Linked DNA regions of Homo sapiens. The protein of the gene in region 1 purifies or fractionates together with the protein of each later gene. This does not show direct contact. Each region holds a gene or a part of one and is shown in the gene's direction. Other genes may lie near its edges.

The links. The genes of interacting proteins can lie anywhere in the genome.
Region 2: the proteins of KCNA6 (region 1) and KCNAB2 purify together in Homo sapiens (affinity purification with mass spectrometry; 3 studies listed by BioGRID and IntAct, with this or other methods). This does not show direct contact.

What each region holds. Positions count from the first base shown.
Region 1 is NC_000012.12:4,804,122-4,813,406, forward strand, and holds KCNA6 (potassium voltage-gated channel subfamily A member 6), read left to right. Parts: upstream 1-5,212; 5' UTR 5,213-5,920; coding exon 5,921-7,510; 3' UTR 7,511-9,197; downstream 9,198-9,285. UniProt on the Homo sapiens protein: Voltage-gated potassium channel that mediates transmembrane potassium transport in excitable membranes. Forms tetrameric potassium-selective channels through which potassium ions pass in accordance with their electrochemical gradient.
Region 2 is NC_000001.11:6,097,888-6,102,903, forward strand, and holds the end of KCNAB2 (voltage-gated potassium channel subunit beta-2), read left to right. Parts: intron 1-597; coding exon 598-687; 3' UTR 688-3,293; downstream 3,294-5,016.

The sequences.
Region 1 (9,285 bases):
GCCCAGAGTGAGATGGTGAGAGGAGGGACACGGGCTCAGACTCATCACCCCTGCTTCTCACTGGCTCTGAGTGGTTTGGATTCCACAGTGGAAAGCTCAAGAGTGGGGTGGGTCATTCTAGGGAGGGTGTTCCGTGCTTGTGCACAAGTGTTGTGTTCTCTCAGTAAGAGGTAAGGGAGCTGACGACTCGCCACCCTGTCCTCAGAGCAGGGGCCTGTGGGTGACAGGACCATGAGGAGAACCATTTTCAGAGGTTACACAGAGAAAGAGGAAAACTTCAGGGATCGTATTACCAGAATGATGACAAGTGCACACACACACACACACACACACAGCAAAATAAAAATGTAAAGAAGCCTGGAAGACAGATCATTTATGTCATTTATATACCTGGAATAGGTACATTTTAGAACCTAGGGCAGAGGTCAGAATATAAATGGTTATCACACAATGCTTCACATTATCTGTGCTCATCTTGTGGGCACATACGTCCATTCTTAGGTGGTTCTTCCCATGGATGCCCCCCACGTACTCCTGACCTGTTGCAGATCATGTGTTCCACTGGAAGGCCAGCGTGGGCCCAGGAGGATGGGGCCCCTGGGGTCTAGTCCTGGTTGTTGGTTTCCAGGAGCTCTCCATCTCTTGGCTTTCCTTTGACTTCACCTACAACCCCTCAGCCTCCTATGCTGGCTGCCCTTCCTCCTGACCTTGACCGGTAGATTGAAGACTGCTGTGAAGGACTTGGTCCTGGTCATTTCTCCTCGTTGTCCATATTCTGTTTCTGCAGAAGACCTTGGTGCCATGAATGTATATATTTCTAGATGTCTTAAATTCATAAATCGTAAGTTTCTTTTTCATATTCCAGACCTAAATAAATAACTGCCTCCTTGATGTCTTAATTTGCATGTATAATTTCCCTCTCCAATGTAAAACATCTAAAGGTGAGGTCTTGACGCATCCCAACTTGTTTAACCCCTTGTCTTCCCTTTCTCAGTAAAGGGCGACACCTACCTGCCTAGTTGCTTGAGCTTGGCATTGGCTGCTTATTTCTCATGTTTTATTGATGACTAATTCCTGCTGATTCTATCATCTAAACATACCTCCTCAGTTCTCCTCACCTCCTCTCCACTCTATCTCTACTGACTCTACCTTTCTCTGGCCCAAGTCACCATCATCTTTTCCCCAGACGACTGCAATTTCCTGGTCTTTCTATTTCTTCTTCTACCTCTTCATAATTCATTCCCCTCCCAGCCTCTAAGTAAATCACATCACGTCTCTCCTCTGCTTGAAAACCATCATTGGCTTCATACCGCCCTTAAGATAAAACCTGAACACCTCACCCTATAAGATGGTACCCTTGCTAATTCTTCAATCTTATCTTGCACCTCCCTTTCCCTTGCCCATTCTCCTCCCAGCGCACGGCCTTCTTTTTGACCTTGAACACCCATGACCTTTCTAGCTCAGGGCTTTTGCACTTGTCAGTCTGGAATGCTCTTCCCTGCATTTGGCACTGTGGCCCCATTCTCTTATCTATTTTTGAGACAGAATCTCCCTCTGTCACCCAGGCTGGAGTGCAGTGGTACAATCTCGGCTCACTGCAACCTCCACCTCCCAGGTTAAAGCGATCCTCCTGCCTCAACCTCCCAAGTAGCTGGGACTACACGTGCCCTCCACCATGCCCAGATAATTTTTGCATTTTTAGTAGAGACAGAGTTTTGCCATGTTGGTCAGACTGGTCTTGAACTCCTAACCTCAGGTGATCCACCTGCCTCAGCCTCCCAAAGTGCTGGGATTACAGGCATGAGCCACCGTGCCAGGCTCCATTCTCCTCTTTGGATTGTCAGTTGAAATACTACCTCTTCAGAGGGAACTTTTCCAGCTACCCTTGCAAAGTTGAGTCCCCAAGTTCATTTCTGACATGGCATCCCATTTATCCTCCTCAAGGCATTTACTGCAATATGGAATTATTTTCCTTATTGTCTACTGTTAAAATTTTCTGTCTATAATGTAATTTATTACATGAAAATGTATGCTTATCAAAGCAGATATTTTGTATAGATCACTGCTAAATCCTCAGCACCTGGCACCATGCTGGCACTCAGTAGCTGCTCAATATATACTTTTTAAATAAATGAATGATTGCTATGACCATGGCAAACATCTGAATCTGGATACAACAACAAAAAATAACAACAAAATCTGTGCTGGCATGAAATTGGTGCTTGGTGAATGCTGGGGAAAAATCCCCTGCCATTGGAAGCCACTTGGCAGTGTTTATGGATGGAGCTGTGTCTTCCTTCACCTGGGAACTGGCATTTCTGAAGGTGTGATTGTACTCATCCTTAACATACGCTTGGGGGGAATGATCTAGGCATAGGGTTTTTCTTAAGCTAAGAAATGAGTCTATTTCACAAAAGAACTAAAAACAGAACTCTGATTCATGAATTTGCCAATGGCTTGTCCTTCTCAGGGGAACCTCCCTGGGCACAGTGAAACCCTTCTTGGGGCACGACCTCATGCTTGATGTGAAGGTCATCACAGAACATCAGCTCTGCCTGAAGGGTGGCCGGCAGCCCAGTCAGGCTTAACCCGAGGGGTACTCAAACGGAGGTTCTTGACACCTTATCAGGGTGTGTACGCTTCTGCAGAACGAAGGTTCCTTCCCATGCTTTGCCAGGATTGGTTTTGAAGAATTACTGACCTAGTTGACAGTCTCGTGAATAAAAATGGCAATGATGAAAACAAACCTGCAAATGAATCATTCATTATGAATTTGAAAACAAAAACAAAAAGAATCAGGGGTTAGTCAATTTATGACTCAGAAAATAATGACAGATAACTGGATAAGGGTAAAGTGACAGATAACTGGATGGGGGTAAAGAGTATCTTCTATAGTGTATTTGCTGTTGGTTTCCTTTTTTTTCTTTTCTTTCAAAAAGATTTTTTAAACAGAGCAACTTTTGTGTGGAGTCTAAATGGCTTAATTACATAGTCTGTAAGTGAGAAAACTCCGCTGGATGACTCCATGTACTTGCTTTCTCTCCCTTCACGGAAACATGCAAGGTGAGAGAAAGGAGTGGAAATGAGACAGGCAAGCATGAGATGGGCAAGCTGGCTGCTTTCCTGTTGTGATGTGGTTTGGAGAAAAAAGAACAAAAGCCCTTTACTCAAGCTGTAACTCCCAGCCAGTCAGCATCAAAGGCCCAAGAAGCTATTAACCACAAATTAATTAACCCCTTGCTTTAGAGAACTAAGGACCTTTCTGAGGCCCTACGTGCCTAGCTAGGCTTAACTTTCACCTCATCATGAACTTTTCCTTATTTTAGTACTAAAAATCATGCCCACAGGTGGAGATTTAAGATGCTAATGAGACATATGTTGTATGAAGCAGCATCTTAAGCCACCGTACATGTGCCCGAAAAACCTCACCTCTACATGCCCTGACTTCCCCTTACTGCAGACCTCCACAAAGGGAACCCACACCTTGACTTTGGAGAGCAACCCACTTCCTTTCTTGGTGTTTGGTCCCTTATGTCCATAAGCTTTCATAAAATCTTTCTCTTTGCTACTGTATGCTGTGATCTCTTTTGATTTCTATCCTGGGGGATCAAAAAAGCCCACAGGGCGTTGGTGCCAGAAATCAGCTGTGCAAGCACAGAAAGGGAGCAGAGGCTGTTGCCTGGCTCAACTGGTGAGGAGCAAGACTGGAGAATGAGCATGCAGTGAGTTCTAATACTAGCACATTTCTTACCCACTCAACACCTGATCCCTTCCCGACACATCCAGGAGCCTTGGTTCTCTCCTTCCTCCAACTCTCTGAGAGTGAATGCTGCTGAGAACCACTGTGGTTTTAAAATACTCCGTGCAATACAAAGAACTCTCAGATGCATCCTGTGGTTTGAGAGCACCTTTATGTGTCATTCTCATCATTAACCTCAATGAATGCATACTAATGATCTAATATGCACCAGAAGCTACACAAAAACACTTTGTAGTTGTTAGCCAATTCATTTTGGCTACAGCCAGCCAGAAAAGAGGAAACTGAGGCACAGAGAAGCAAATGTCAACCCTACCTGGAAGTGTCAGTCTGAAAAGATCAGTTGAGTCTTCCTCTACCAGACCCCAACTTGTCTGGTCTCGTGAAGAAAGACAGAAATGGATGGAAAACCATTCTTATCACCTTCTTGCTGGAGAGTTAGGGAAGAGTCAGCTGGTCCCTAACAACAAACTTTGCCCTACTCCAGTACTGCCAAAGGGGTCTTTGTTGTAACATGGCCTACAAGGAGAGGACATCTTTCTGGGAAAGCACCTAGAATGTGGCTGGCACATATTCAATGCCCAGTAAATGTAGCTATTATTTTTTCAATCAACACTCTTACATACCCCTTTTCCACTCACCCTCTTCTCCCTTTTTTTGGTCACCCAATAAGCAGAAATTCCAGATGCATCCTTCGGGGTGGTTGGGAGCAAAGGATCCCCAGGGTGCACTGTGCCCTGGGCTGAGGTATCTCTGAGGTGCTTCCATCTTCTGGGTCCTTCCTCACTGGGGTTGTTGCCTCAGGCTCTCAGGACTCCCCTGGAAATCTTCTGATGGGAAAGGCATTGATTGACTTGCCACCCTTTCTCTACCATCCCTTTGCAATTCTGGGAGAGTTGCAGCCCCGCCCTCCCAGGCTTGCAAAGGTAGACGGAGAATTATATTGGAATTTAAATCGGAAGCTCTCAAGGCATCTCAAAAATACTTTCTCTATTTTTTTTTTCCTGTAGATATTGGAGAGGTTGGCAAACGGGTCTTCCTGAAGACAGAAGAATGTATGATTTAATGTTTTCTTTAGATTTCTGTATGAGTGGATGCACAGTGCTCCGTATTGTGTGGTGGGGCGGGGTGTGTCTTCTTATTGATGAAATACACTGCGCAGGTCAACTCGGTAAATTGAAATGAGAAGAGCCGACTGCGGGGGTGGAGGGGGTGTGGTATTAGGGTGCCGGCGCTTGTGGAGGGGGGCGCGAATGTGAACGTGTGAAAGCGAGAGGCGTGCCAGGAGAGCGCGGGAAAGCTTACTGGTGAGGCAAGTGTGCGTCTATTTCCATGGCGCCCTGGCTCGCGGCAGCCCCTGGCTGGGCGAGGGGTGTGATGTGGGAGTGGGGTGGGAGGGGGCAGCAGGCGGGGCCTGCCACGTCACTTGGAGAGTGTGTGTTGGGAAGGAAGGGCAGAGCGGAGAGCCGAGCCGCTGCAGCTGCGGCGGCGGCAGCGAAGCCTTGAGCCGTGGGGAGGTGGGTCCCCGCGCTCGGGCGCCGGGGCAGCCCCGGGCCCTCTGCGAGGCCTGCGGCGCGGCTCCTAGGGAGGAGGTGGCGGCTGTGGCGGCCGGAACCGCGACCTTGGCCGGACCCAGCCCCGCGGTGGACGCAGGGCGGAGGCCGAGCCCCGCCAGGAGTCTTTGCCGAGCCGGAGGGAGGCGCATCTGGCGCTTCGGTACCAGCGGCAGCCGGGGGTCCGGAGCGGCTGGAGGAGCGCAGTGGGAACTGGGAAGAGCTAGCCCGGCTGGAGGGCGGACCTCTGCGTCCGGGAGCCGGGTCTCAGGCACCGCTGGGGGCGAAGCCACGCGTCTTTTCGGGCAGCCAATTTCACACGCGCCTGTGTGCGGTTCCGGGCATCCCAGTAAGCTCTAGCACCCGGGCGCGGGTAACGGGAAGCGCAGAACCAAATCCCCAGCGCCCAGGTCACCTCCCCAGACCCAGCCTTGCAGGGACCAGGGCTTTAGGGCTCACGGACCCAACGGCCAGGTCAGACCGCGAACCGGGAGGAGCGCGGGCCCCACCCTAAAGAGGGCGCAGCCGGGAGCTGGGGAGCGGGTGCCGCGCTCCAGAGATTGTGTCGTGGGCGCCGTCCTAGTGGCGGGGAGCGCACCTCCGAGGGGGCATGAGATCGGAGAAATCCCTTACGCTGGCGGCGCCGGGGGAGGTCCGTGGGCCGGAGGGAGAGCAACAGGATGCGGGAGACTTCCCGGAGGCCGGCGGGGGCGGGGGCTGCTGTAGTAGCGAGCGGCTGGTGATCAATATCTCCGGGCTGCGCTTTGAGACACAATTGCGCACCCTGTCGCTGTTTCCGGACACGCTGCTCGGAGACCCTGGCCGGCGAGTCCGCTTCTTCGACCCCCTGAGGAACGAGTACTTCTTCGACCGCAACCGGCCCAGCTTCGACGCCATCCTCTACTACTACCAGTCTGGGGGCCGCCTGCGGAGGCCGGTCAACGTGCCCCTGGACATTTTCCTGGAGGAGATCCGCTTCTACCAGCTGGGGGACGAGGCCCTGGCGGCCTTCCGGGAGGACGAGGGCTGCCTGCCCGAAGGTGGCGAGGACGAGAAGCCGCTGCCCTCCCAGCCCTTCCAGCGCCAGGTGTGGCTGCTCTTTGAGTACCCAGAGAGCTCTGGGCCGGCCAGGGGCATCGCCATCGTCTCCGTGTTGGTCATTCTCATCTCCATAGTCATCTTTTGCCTGGAGACCTTACCCCAGTTCCGTGTAGATGGTCGAGGTGGAAACAATGGTGGTGTGAGTCGAGTCTCCCCAGTTTCCAGGGGGAGTCAGGAGGAAGAGGAGGATGAAGACGATTCCTACACATTTCATCATGGCATCACCCCTGGGGAAATGGGGACCGGGGGCTCCTCCTCACTCAGTACTCTTGGGGGCTCCTTCTTTACAGACCCCTTCTTTCTGGTGGAGACGCTGTGCATTGTCTGGTTCACTTTTGAGCTCCTGGTGCGCTTCTCCGCCTGCCCTAGCAAGCCGGCCTTCTTCCGGAACATCATGAACATCATTGACTTGGTGGCTATCTTCCCCTACTTCATCACCCTGGGCACTGAGCTGGTGCAGCAGCAGGAGCAGCAACCAGCCAGTGGAGGAGGCGGCCAGAATGGGCAGCAGGCCATGTCCCTGGCCATCCTCCGAGTCATCCGCCTGGTCCGGGTGTTCCGCATCTTCAAGCTCTCCCGCCACTCCAAGGGGCTGCAGATCCTGGGCAAGACCTTGCAGGCCTCCATGAGGGAGCTGGGGCTGCTCATCTTCTTCCTCTTCATCGGGGTCATCCTCTTCTCCAGTGCCGTCTACTTCGCAGAGGCTGACGATGACGATTCGCTTTTTCCCAGCATCCCGGATGCCTTCTGGTGGGCAGTGGTTACAATGACCACGGTAGGTTACGGGGACATGTACCCCATGACTGTGGGGGGAAAGATCGTGGGCTCGCTGTGTGCCATCGCTGGGGTCCTCACCATTGCCCTGCCTGTGCCCGTCATCGTCTCCAACTTCAACTACTTCTACCACCGGGAGACGGAGCAGGAGGAGCAAGGCCAGTATACCCACGTCACTTGTGGGCAGCCTGCGCCGGACCTGAGGGCAACTGACAACGGACTTGGCAAGCCTGACTTCCCCGAGGCTAACCGGGAACGGAGACCCAGCTACCTTCCTACACCACATCGGGCCTATGCAGAGAAAAGAATGCTCACGGAGGTCTGACCCATGCAGGCAGGGCCTGCAGGAGGGGAGCACTGAGCTAACAGTCTCTTAGGCTTCCTTCTCATTTCCACTACTCACTCTAGCTTCAGTTGACTTCTTGACTCTCTCCCCTACACCCACTACCTGGCATCCAGGACCAAATACCTGGACTATCAACCTTGTTGCTTAATCCCTGCAGCATTCAAGGTTAATCCATCTAAGTGACATTTTTGAAATTCCAGCGGTGCCACCCAATCATGCCCAGCTTCTGTCATATGAATGAGATATACATTTATGTCTGACCTTCCCTCAAGACTGATTTTTCATGTCTGGGACTTACAATATCTCAAGGAACAGCAATGTCAACAGGATGGAAACCAGCCCTATCTGAGTCTTCGCTCCCTCCTTAGTGTTCTTTGCTTTGGGTCATGTGCGTTTCCTAGCTTCAGGCTACTTGGTAACTGGAAGAAGCTGGAGGACAGAAGCAGTACTCAACTTGCTGTTATTCCAGTGCCCTGTAACAATCACTGGTCCTCCTGCAGATGACCCTTGGTAGAGTCTTTATTTGCATAGCCTCAAAATAGGTTATTCGTTTCTAAACTTGGATGGAATTAGAGAATACAATCAAACTTTACCACTTGGAGGACACGGGGTTAGTCCAGGACCAAAGAGGCCAATGGATTTTTCAAAGTGTGCCCCAGCACAAGAGGCACTGGTGTTCGGTCTACATTTAGTTCTCCCCACTCTGATCCCCTGACTCTCCAGCTTCCAGGAAGGTTCCTTCTCAGAGCCAAATACTCTTTGTGCAAGTGCCTTCCTGAGCAGAAGAACTGGAGAAAGGGAACCACAGAGCCAGGAGGAATGTCTGAGCAGAGTCAAGCAACTGGCTTGACCACAGTCTGAAGCAAGGTGCCACTTAAACAGATACTGTTTTCTCAAAGGGGCAGAGGAATCGTGTTGCAGATGGCAGCCTTTTCTCCTTCATTTTCCCCACATTTTCTCTGGCCCTCTACCTTGCTTCCTGGGAGTTTGATTTAGGATTGCTGTTGAAGGCTTCCTCAGGCAAACTCCAGCTTAAAGCCCTAGACAGGTAAAAGCACACATTGGATGGCAGCATGGGTTTCTTCCCATTTTATGGGCATGAAATATGTGGTTTAGAATAAGGAACAAGCATTATTCCTTTGCCAACAGCCTCACTCTAAGAGGCTTTTTTGCTGAGTCAAGCAAACACTTGCCTGCTCTGCCCCTTGGAGCTGCATTTGACCTGCTCTCACTGGTAAGGTGACTTGGTGGCGTTCCCACTTGATTTAGCCATTTTCTTCCATTGTGAGACCACTGCCATCTATCCACCTGCCCACCTCCCCTTTTGTTTCTCAGTAACATTGCCATTTGTTTTTTGCCTTTGATAAACTGTGATGTACTGTTCTGAGATCTTTTGGGTGCAGTTCTGAAACTGAAAGGACTGTTAACATGTTTTTAATTTTATATCTATGCTTTCAGACTCTTTGATGATAATTTTTTTTTTAAAAATTATTCTCTCGAAGAGCAACTTACGAGAGGACAGCCTTATGAGGGTTTGCTTGAGAGGCAGTGTGGCTTCTGTGACTGCCAGCTCTAAATCTCGATCTTGCCATAACTTTACAGGGTAACTTGGGTCCACAGTCACTCTTTGTGCCTCAGTTTACCCACCCATTAAATGGGAACATTACTGTCTTCCCCTCCCTACCTCATGGGGAATGTCTGGGAAGCTGGGGACATTGCTATGCAAATGTGTGAATCTTAGTCATGGATTTGAT
Region 2 (5,016 bases), on another chromosome or scaffold:
GCTGCAGCTCAGCCTGGAAAGGGAGGCTGCTCTCCGGCTGCTCCATCGGGGAGGCTTTGGGAAGCAAAAGTCGAAGCAGAGAGCCCTGGTGGGAAGTGGCAGCTGCGGGTCCGAGACGGGAGTGGTGGTTGGATCCTGGATGTTTGGGAAGGTGGGGCCCCCGGGACTGGCTGACAAACTGGATGTGGGGGTGAGAAGGCGAGGTGGAAGTCGGTCCCCGGGTGTGTCACCCGGAAGGGTGGCGGTGCTGTATGCTGAGGCAGGCGCAGCTGGAAAAAGCAGTCACGGACATGGAAGTCCAGCATTTGGCCTGGAGTTTCCATTTTATGTCACTGCTGCCACCACCCTTCAGGAAGGTTCTAGGGCACCTTGACATTTGAGAGGGAGTGCACAGACCCAGGCATGCTTCCTCTCTGCCCCAAACCTTCTGAAACACAAAAGCAGCGTGGCCTCCATCTGCCTCAGATGGAGCCCAGATGTGATGGGGCAACCCGGGCCTGGCCAGCCGACCATCTGGAAGAGCCTGGCCCCACCTCCTCCCCAGGCCAGGCCCGTCTTGTTGGTGGGATTCTGATTTGTTGTTGTTCTTGCACGCAGGTCCTTCCGAAACTGTCATCTTCCATTATCCACGAGATTGATAGTATTTTGGGCAATAAACCCTACAGCAAAAAGGACTACAGATCCTAAGCCGCCCCCGCCCGCCTGCTCGGACAGTTTCCGTTCCCTCCTAGTCTCTGTTCGCTCGCTTAAGCTGTTTTGAAGCCAAGTGAAGAGTGTGGTTTGCATCCAAGAGAAAACACCACACTGTGATGTCATCGGGAAATGATCTCCCAAGTCGCTGCCAGACACCACCCACTGCTTCGCCGGACAATGTCGAAGTCCAGTCTGTGCCGGGGAAGGCACTGGTTAGGAAGGATGTTCAAACGGTCCCACCCAAGCCTGTCACCTCTGCTCATCCTCCAAGACCACCCAGCTTTCTCCCAGCCACAGCCAAGATTCCCAAAGTCAAGGCCCAAAGATTTCCAAGGTTCCCAAAGTCAAGGCCAGGCCAAGGCCTGGTTGGGTCCTTGGGGCGGGCAGGGCCAGCCTCTCCTCTGCTGAGAATCCCCACTTGGTGTAGGGGGAGAGGGGAAAGGGGTCTGGCCCATCGAGGGGCCCCTTCTGCCAGGGCCTTGGTTGCTGGGGCAGGGCCTCCCCACTGGGGGTCTTCCTCCACCTCCCACTTTCCAAGGGCTCCAGGAATCTGGGGCCTGACCACAGATTCCTCTCCCATCCTTTTCTGCTCCAACCTGCCCCACTGGGTCCCGGCAGGGGCCATGCCTACCAAGCTCGAGCTGGCCCTTGACCCCCACCCACCCCCACCCTTGCTGGCAGGGGCAGGGACCCCAGGGGGATTGACTCTGCAGTTTGGGAGCCACAAAAAGCGTAGCGGTGTGATTTCTAGCTCAGCCTCCCACCGTCTTCCTCCTACACACCAATGATGAGCCTCATGCCAGTGAGGCCCGGAGCGCTTGGGAGGGGTCCCAGTGGGGCAGGCCCCTCTGTCTGGCCACCCCTCTGTCCTGGCCCCGGAAGGCCCTGTGGTCATGTGCTCCTAGCTGCACGGTGGCTGCTGGCCACACCACGGCAAGTGGCAGCAGGGGCCGGCCCTGTGCACAAGGATGCACTCCTCTCGGCCCCTGTAGACTTTCTCTAAAGCCGCCCGCCAGCCCAGGCCGCTGCTCTGCACCGAGCTGGTGGGCTTGGGTTTTGTGGAGCGCATGCTTGGACCCTTTCAGTAAGGAAGGGTCTTTGGGGTTTTCTGTGCCCATGACTTGGGGGCTGCACCCCCACAGCACCCCCACAATGTAGGAAAAGACCTCAGGGAACCTCTCCCTGGAAAGACGGGCAGGGCTGGTTAGCCCCTCCCACTGCCTGACACCTGGGACAGGCTGGGCAGAGGGGAGAGAGGGCAGGACAGGCCAGAGTGACGCCCCCGTGCAGCTTGGGCCGGAGGGCAAGGGATGCCAGTAAGTCTGCAGGTGCGGGGTGCCACCTACAGGCCCAGGCCTGTGTCCCAAGCAGTACCCAGGCTTTGCAGACCACGCGGGGCAGGGCTCCACTGAAGCCACCCCCACCCCTCGCCAGCTAGCTCCATAGGGAAGCCTGTGTCTCCTGCCCCCAGGGCGCACCCTCAGTGCAGGCACCTCTGTTCCCGCTTTGCCCCTGGAGGAGCCACTATTCCAGAAGGCTCCACCCTGCCGTCCTGCGGGAGCCTGCTGTCCAGTCCTGGCCGGGCCAAGGCCTGGGAAACTGTGAAAGTCAGAAAGGCCAGCGGGGAGAGGCTGGGGCGAGGGGAGGAGGGGGATCAGCTTCTGCTATTACCGACCCCCCTTCATGCTGCCCCTGGCGCCTAGAACCCTTGCCCCTCCTCATAGACCAAGTCCCGGGGGTCTCCACTCAGTCCTGCTGCCTGCTTCACCAGAAGCAGCCCTGTGAGTGTGGGGTGGGGAAGTCCCTTCCCAACGGAGGTCCCAGCCTATGGCCCTGGGCCCAGGTGGGGGTCGCCTGCTTCCTTCCCGGACAGGGTCCTGCAGTGGCCAATGGTGCCAGAGGGCAGGTGGCCCACCCTCGCCATCAGGGAGGGTGGCTGGCCCCATCCCCACTGCCACCCAGCCCCACCCACTGTTGGAAGAGGGACCAGCGCGAGGTGGTGCCCAGGGTGGGCACTGCTGCTTAATGCGAGGCACACCTGGGGCAGCTGAGCCCCCAAAGGCTGCGGGTTTGCCAAACACAGAGAGGCCAGGCCCCAGTGTCAGGATGCAGTCAGCCTCTGGCGCAGCTCTTTCCACGACCTGGTTCCTGGATGTCCTGCTTGCTCCACACCCATCTACAGGGAGGATGTGAGGGGGCTCTGCCTCCTAGGGCCAGGTCCCCCCTCTCGGGAGGAGGTATTGGGTAGGACCATCCAAGAAAGGGCAGAAGACCAAGGGCAGTCGGGGTCTAGAAAGGAGGGCGCTGGCCCTGCTGGACGCTTCGGAGCCCCCACTGTTTCCCACTCAGCTTTGTGCTCAGATCCCAGGTCCCAAGGAGTGACAGGGGCTTCCTCCCACCTTCTGTCCTTGTCCAGTCATGTAAATAATGTGCTTTTTCTCTCCCCGAGTCTTTTTTTTTAAACCTACCGTGGTTCCTCAGCTAACTGCATTCCCTACCCAGGCAGAGACTGTCCTATGCCTCGAGCTTCCAAACGAGACTCAGACCGCGACACAGCCACCGTATTTATGGAATGACAAAATAAATAAAGCCCAAACCCATCGGTCTCTGTGACTTTTTGCTCCTCTCATTTCCTCAGGGTCAGGGCTGGGCCAGGGTGACACGGGAGGGGAGGAAAAGGCTGCCAGCAGCAGGGCCTGGGGCATCCCCCAAACCGGAGCCTGCAGCCAAGGGCAGGTGGGTTGGAAAGGGCCCGTGGAGAGAGAGCGGGGACAGAGAATGGGGACAGGGTGGTCAGAAGACCTGTCCCCCATCTCTCCCAAGCGATTCAGCCAAGGGAGGGTGCGTGCCTCCCCTGCCGCCCCCAACACACACATTCTCTTTCACCAACTCTGAGGGCCCAAAGCTGCTTGCTGGGAGGCTGCTGTCCCTCTGGGGACCTGGCTGGCTGCTGTTCTCATAAGGACAGAGGTCCAGGCCTGGGGAAGCTCTCATGGTATGTGTTTGGGGTACAGGTGAGAGGGGCCTCACCCCAGCACACCCCTGTTTCGGGCTCCCCTCCTTCCCAGTGAGCCCCTGCACCCGTGAAATGACCATCCCAGGCAAGAGAAGGCTTCCGGACACGCCCCCACCCCCCACCACTCCTCCCTGGCCCCAGCCCCCACCCCCATTCTAAATCTTGAATCTTAAAAAGAAAAAGCCTCTGATTAAATCCTTTCCCAAAGGATTTATTAAAACACAGAAAACCAAAACATACACACAGAGTACAAAGTAAAGGTGATTGTGTTGGCTACAGCCTCTGTCCAGCCTCCCGTGGGCGAAGACCAGACAAGCCACGGCTCACAGGGGAGCCTGGCTTCCAAAGCTGGACCCGCCCCCGCCGGGGCCACCCTGGCTGGGACTCCTGGCGCGCCTTGCACCCAGCCCAGGGCCCTCCCTTTGCCAGCCTGGGGCTGTGCCTGGGGAAAGGGGTCGGCCCCCTCTTAGCTGGGCCTGGGCCGGTGGAGTCTGCTCCCTCCACACCCCTGAACTCAGACCCCACGGGCCAGTGGGGACCCTCCCTTCCTCTCCAGGGGTGCTTGGGCTCCAATCGCTGCTTGAGGAGTTCAGGACACACACACACACCCAACGGGCCCTTTCTGGGTTATCGCACCTAAAAAAATACTTTGTTTAAAAAAAAAATCTGAAAATTAAAGAAAAAAAAAACACAACGCCAGTGAGTTTGGGCTGATGCACCACAACCTGTAAACTTTCAGACACAGAAAACAGGACAGGAACCAGCTGCCGAGGCCGAGGCGGGCCTTGCACAGAAGAGACTTGGGGGAGGGGCCGAGGCCAGGTCACCAAGACGGTGAGGGCAGAGGGGCGTGCCAGCCTCGGCCCCCACCCACGCCCTGTCCCCTGCCCACAGACCCTGACGCACACTGGAGGCTCCAAGTGACCGACACTTGACCAAGTCCATCTGGCTTCTGGCTCCCATGTACCCGAGCCCACTCTCCACTCCACCTCCTTGGGCCTCAAGTGTCCTGGGATGACAGGAGTGAGGGCTGCAGGTGTCACCGGGCCAAGGCTTGGTCAGCTCCTGACCTCGGCAGGGGAGCACCCGGGGGACTCTGGGAAGGCAGCCCCCAAAAGCAGGAGGACTTCAATCATAGGGGGCAGGGAAAGTCCAGCCTGCCCCTGGGGGAAGCCAAGTTTGCAAAAAACGCAGGAGCTTCGGAAGGTGGCTTTCACGGGGGACGCTGCTTCTGCCTCAGGCGTGTATGAGAGGGCCCTGCAGACGTGCTCACTCCACCCCGAGTCACCTGAGCCCATGGGGCAATG